2 separate regions of the Homo sapiens genome follow, and region 1 is linked to region 2. The links come from fine-mapping of genetic effects on gene expression. A gene starts in region 2. The other region holds a variant in brackets. All regions are shown on one strand. Distances are from middle to middle.

What was found.
Region 1: its variant is fine-mapped to the expression of SNX12 in blood mononuclear cells (TOPMed, PIP above 0.99).

Annotation. Positions count from the first base shown.
Region 1 is chrX:71,019,080-71,022,000 of GRCh38, reverse strand. It overlaps the pseudogene RNU1-56P. Among named protein-coding and RNA genes, the nearest start is that of SNX12, 48 kb to the left of the region's middle. The variant A/T (reference allele first, on the strand shown) is at 1,362.
Region 2 is chrX:71,067,158-71,070,078 of GRCh38, reverse strand. SNX12 (sorting nexin 12) reads left to right here and starts at 1,745. Exons shown (of 4, transcript NM_013346.4): 1 at 1,745-1,937. The coding sequence starts at 1,773. RefSeq lists silencers at 1,530-1,749, 1,589-1,782.

The DNA of each region.
Region 1 (2,921 bases), 48 kb after region 2:
AACTTCTGGCAGATCTGCTATTCTGTTGCTTGCTCCAACCAATATTGTAACTTCAGGTAACTGCGATTTTGGCTTCCCGTGTCTGTATGAAATTGAGTTTGCTATTGTTTTAAACACCCCTGGGCATAGGACTTTTTTGGTGCTCGTTCTTTATGAAGTAATTCCCCTCCAGCATCTAAATTGTTATTTTTTTATGGCTTGCCTTGACTTTCGTTGTAAAATCAGCTCCAGGGGACCTAGTGGGAGTGGGGGAGATGGAAGCAGCCCCGTAGTCTCCCACTGTTCTTAGCCAAAGGTTCCACAGGTTTTCTTAATTGCTTCTTAATCCAGTTTTATCATTGTTTTAAGGAAGAGAGGATTTGCTGAGTTCCTCTGCCATTCCAGAAGTCCGGCCTAATTTATGGTTTTTTTTGTTTTTTTTTTTTTTGAGACGGAGTCTCACTCTGTCACCAGGTTGGAGTGCAGTGGCCCGATCTTGGCTCACTGCAAGCTCTGCCTCCCGGGTTCAAGTGATTCTCCTGCCTCAGCCTCCTGAGTAGCTGGGATTACAGGCGCATGCCACCACGCCCAGCTAATTTTTGTATTTTTAGTAGAGATGGGGTTTCACCATGTTGGCCAGGATGGTCTCGATCTCTTGACCTCGTGATCTGCCTGCCTTGGCCTCCCAAAGTGCTGGGATTACAGGCGTGAGCCACTGCACCCGGCCACTAATTTATGTTTTAAAAGATCATTCTTAAGTGTTCTTACTACAAAAAAGTATGTGATGTAATGCATATGTTACTTATTAGCTCAATTTAGCCATTCCACAATGTGTACATATTTCAAAACATCATATTGTATACCATAAATATATATACTTTTTATTTGCCAACTTTAAAAAAAGAACATTCTGTTAGGAGTGGAGGATGGAAGGGAAGCTGGTGACCAGGAGTATATAATTTTACTCAGCAGTACTTTGTAAGCAGGAATGGAGAATATAAATAGTTTGGTTGATTTGTGGGTGAGAATTGACATAATAGGGATGGTGGAAAATCAAGGGGATAGGAGAATAGGGAGTGTTGGTTACTGTTATTGAAGTCTCACTGTCCATGGACTCTTTCCTAAGTAGACAAGGAAATGCAGTCCAAAAGTACATGATGGCAATGGACTTTAGGGACTCAGGGGGAAAGGGTGGGAAGGGGGTGAGGGATAAAAGACTACAAATATGGTGCAGTGTATACTGCTCGGGTGATGAGTACACCAAAATCTCATAAATCACTACTAAAGAACTTACTCATGTAACTAAACACCACCTGTTCCCCAAAAACCTGTGGAAATAAATTTTTTTTAAATAAAGGAATTTGAGACCCCCCGCCAAAAAA[A/T]ACCAAAAAACCCAAAAGTACATGATGGCTTTGGAAAATAGGCAAGAGGGTTAATGAATTAAAGGCCTTGAGGCAGTTTAAGGGTAAATTCAGGGAGTATAAGGTTTAAGAGAAGTAGAACAACAAGTAGTTCTGAGAGTGGACCCTCTGTGTTTGGTTTTGGAAGTAGAGCCATTCCAAGTGTCACTCCAGCAACAAATAATTGATACCTGGCAGGGGAGATACCATGATCACAAAGGTGGTTTTCTCAGGGTGAGGCCCATCCATTGCACTCTGGGTGTGTTGGCCCCTGTGATTTCCCCAAATACAGGAAACTCGACTGCATAATGTGTGGTAGTGGGAGACTGAGTTTGTGCTTTCCCCTAAAAAAAAAAAAAAAGAAATGGATTATTGAAAGGGAATGGAGATGAAGAAGTTAGAATAGGTTATGTCAAGGATCCATGAGGTTTGGGTGTTATATCATCAAGGGGGATAATGAAGACTTTCAGGATGAGAAGAGAAAAGGAAAACAGTTGGTACTGAAGTCCTCAGTGAATGTTGGGGGGAGACTTGGAGATTGACATTTAACATTGAGAGGGTCATAAAATTGAGTATTATGAACTTTGAAGAAAGAGGTTATTGAGGTAAGATGGTAAAATAATACCTTGGGGATCCAGTGAAGAAGATACAAGAAGATGATAACCTGATCTTGACTTATGGGGAGATATGAGCAAAGGAAAATGAACAGCCTCAGCTGGGCATGGTTTGTGCACCTGTAATTCCAGCTACTTGGGAGGCTGAAGTGGGAGGACCACTCAAGCCCCAGGAGTTCGAGGCCAGCCTGGGCAACATAGAGCAGGAACACTGTCAGAAAGAAAAGAAAGAAAGAAAAAGGAAGAAAGAAAAGAAAGGAAAGAAAGGAAAGAAAGAAAGAAAGAAAAGAAGAGCCTCAAATGAAGAGCTTTGCCAGGGAGGAAATAGCAGCACAGTTCATGGTTTGGGATGACCAGAGTTCAGGTAAGAAGATGAGATAGAGGCTGAATGGATGGGCATGACCAAAAGCTGGAAGGTTTTAGGGAATGGTGGCTAGTTTTGGCTCAAGCATAGGGTGCAATTAGTTGTATAAGAAAAAGATAATATTGGAATCTATGTGATTAGTTGGAATCCAGAACATAACTAGAGTCATTATTGTTAAAAATATTATTCCTGGCCAGGTGCAGTGGCTCACTCCTGTAATCCCAGCACTTTGGGAGGCCAAGGTGGGCAGATCACGAGGTCAAGAGATCGAGACCATCCTGGCTAACATGGTGAAACCCCGTCTCAACTAAAAATACAAAAAATTAGCCGGGCATGGTGGCGGGTACCTGTGCTCACAGCTACTTGGGAGGCTGAGGCAGAAGAATGGCATGAACCTGGGTGGCGGAGCTTGCAGTGAGCCGAGATCGCACCACTGCACTCCAGCCTGGGCGACAGAGTGAGACTCCATCTCAAAAAAAAAAAAAAAATATATATATATATAAAATATATAGTATATTATATATATAATATATATTATATTATATATATAATATAATATTAATT
Region 2 (2,921 bases):
CTTCCATCACACAGTCTGAATTGGCGATAAATGCCTAAAAATGCTCCACTGTTTCTTATCGCAAGGACTTTGTGTATTCTTTCTTTCTTTCGCTCTCTCTCTCTCTCTCTTTTCTTTTCCTTTTCTTTCTTTCTTTTTTTGATGGAGTCTTGCTCTGTTGCCCAGGATGGAGTGCAGTGGCATGATCTCAGCTCACTGCAACCTCTGCCTCCCGGGTTCAAGCGATTCTCCTGCCTCAGCCTCCTGAGTAGCTGGGATTACAGGCGTGTGCCACCATGCCCAGCTAATTTTTGTATTTTTAATAGAGACAGGGTTTCACCATGTTGGCCAGGCTGATCTCGAACTCTTGACCTCAAGTGATCTGCCTGCCTCGGCCTCCCAAAGTGCTGGGATTACAGGTGTGAGCCACCGCGCCCGGCCTGCATATGCTGTTTCTTATTCCAGAAATTACCTTTCCCTATTTCCACTCCTATTTGTCCTTTATGTCTTTTCATGTCTGTTAAACTCAGATGTTTCCTCCTCCAGGGGAACCTCCCCTAATTTTTCCAGTTATACATTTCCTATGTGCTGCTTTGAACATTTACTTATTTTGTATTTGTCGCATTATATTAGTTTTGTTTACTTGTCTCCCTTGCTAGAATGTTAACTCCTTGAGGGCAGGGACTCTTATTTAACTCCAGGATTTTAGTGTTTAGCATGGTGCTTGGCACGTATTTGCTTAGTGGATATTGGTTAAATTGAATTAAACAGCAATTGTGAAATTGTAGGGCCTCATACTCTGTTGAAAGAATTTCAGGCATCAGTGATATGGGAAATATTTTTTGAGTAGAGGAGGGCAGGGGAAAGGTGGAGAAAGGATGACCTGAAATCATCACCCAGTCTACCCTTTAATGTGGAGCATATGTAAATTAGTCATATAAATATTAATATTTCTATAGATATTCTCATGTAAACATTTATTCTATCTCCATTATGGGTTGCAAGCAACCTCAGAGCAGTGCCAAGTATGGAGTTCTGCGGAGTAGAAATAGAAGGTATGAAATAAGTACCCTCAATTTGCTGATAAATGTAAGATTGAGTACACCTGGAGTGTGGCAACAAGGAGTAAGATATGCCCAATTTTCCTGAAAAGTAAGAGAGAAATGTCTTTCTTTACCCCATCCTAGTTGCTTGCTGCTTTCCTGGCGCCATACGTAGTGCTGAGTGCGCCATTGTGTGTGGCGTGAACTGAAACCATCAGTGGCACAGGTGGGACGGCTACGTTATAGGTTCTCAGTACTATTGTTGGAACCCCACCCTCCATAGACCACCCTTCTATTTTCGCGGAAAACCAGGACTTATTCAGGTCACTGGGCTTCGGCCTATCACTGTAGGAGCCTGGCTCACGGGGCAGTGCCCACTGTTGATTGATACACGGTACGAGACAATTTCTTGGGTTGAGGAGCCGCGATTGGCGGAGCCAGCCTGTGCTGCTAGGCAGGGTATTGGGTACTGCGTATTGGGGATGCAGGTTCCCGGGTGGCCACAAACATCACCCGGAAGCCTGAATATGGCCTCCACTCTACAGGGCGCGCAGCAGTCAGCACGGCCGCTATTCAGAGCCCGGGGCCCAGGCCCGTGCGGCGTGCGCGTGCGTGCGTGGGCGCGCGTGCGCGCCGCCGCCGCCTGTGGGTTGGCTAGTTATTTTGCAAGCGGGAGGGGCCGTGCGCGCTCCTGCCTCAGGCCTCTGTCCCCCACCCCCTTTCCCCGGTCCCAGGCTCTCCTTCGGAAAGATGTCGGACACGGCAGTAGCTGATACCCGGCGCCTTAACTCGAAGCCGCAGGACCTGACCGACGCTTACGGGCCGCCAAGTAACTTCCTGGAGATCGACATCTTTAATCCTCAGACGGTGGGCGTGGGACGCGCGCGCTTCACCACCTATGAGGTTCGCATGCGGGTGAGTCACGGGGTGAGGGAGACAGCTGAGGGAGGACCGGGCGGCGCGAGCGGGAGGGGGGAGGGAGGCTACCGCGGGGGCAACTAACGGCGGGGAAGACGCCTTAGGGGTCATTTGGGGGTTAGGGGTATAATAGGCTTGGAACGAGGTCTGCCGATTCAGTTGTGGCCGGAGGATGCAGAAAACTCCTGAGGGAGACATCGGACGGGGATGCAGGAAAGCTACCCATGAGGAAGTGAAGCATGGCTGGATAGGGTGGGGTGGATGGAAAAAGATTAGAGTGAGGAATTCAAGGAGATAGGAATCACGGCTGTAGCGACTGAAGGAAGGGAGGGAGGATGGAAGAGGGCTGGGGGATGGAAAGCCAAGGCGATATATCGCTGAGCTCCATAACTAAACTAGGTTGTGAGAAGTCTGAAGAGGGAGGGCAGGAAGGCCGGCTGCTTTCTAATGAGGTCTCCCTGGGATAATGGAGTAAAGCAAAGCCTTGAATTAAAGGGAAGGTAGATTCCAGAAAAGGCAGACAGTAGGCTTGTGGGAGCAGAAATAAGAAAGGGAGTCTCCTTGAGACCGAGCGCTTTCCTAACTTGTGTCGGATCAGCATCTGAAGGAGAGAAATGTTTTATGCTTAAGTTTTCGCAGATACTACGTGCTGTCTCGCCTTGAAACCTGGCCTGGCCCTGGGATTGGTGCCTTGTCAGTCACTGCTTTCATTCTATGTGGATCCTTTAGATTTGAAGTATCCAGAATGTTTATTTCAGTATTTATTGACTCTCGTTTAGGTACTTTGTATATGAATGGCTTTTTGCCCTTTCTGTCCTAGATTACCCTTTTGGATTCTGACCCTGGTCTGTAGTTACTTTAATACATGACATTTCAGAATTGCCCAGGAGTGGCTTCTTCCAGCATGCATGATAGAGGACTTTACTCTCTAGTGCTTAGCCCATAATGCAAGGATGGAATGTGCAGATAGAGTACTTGGTT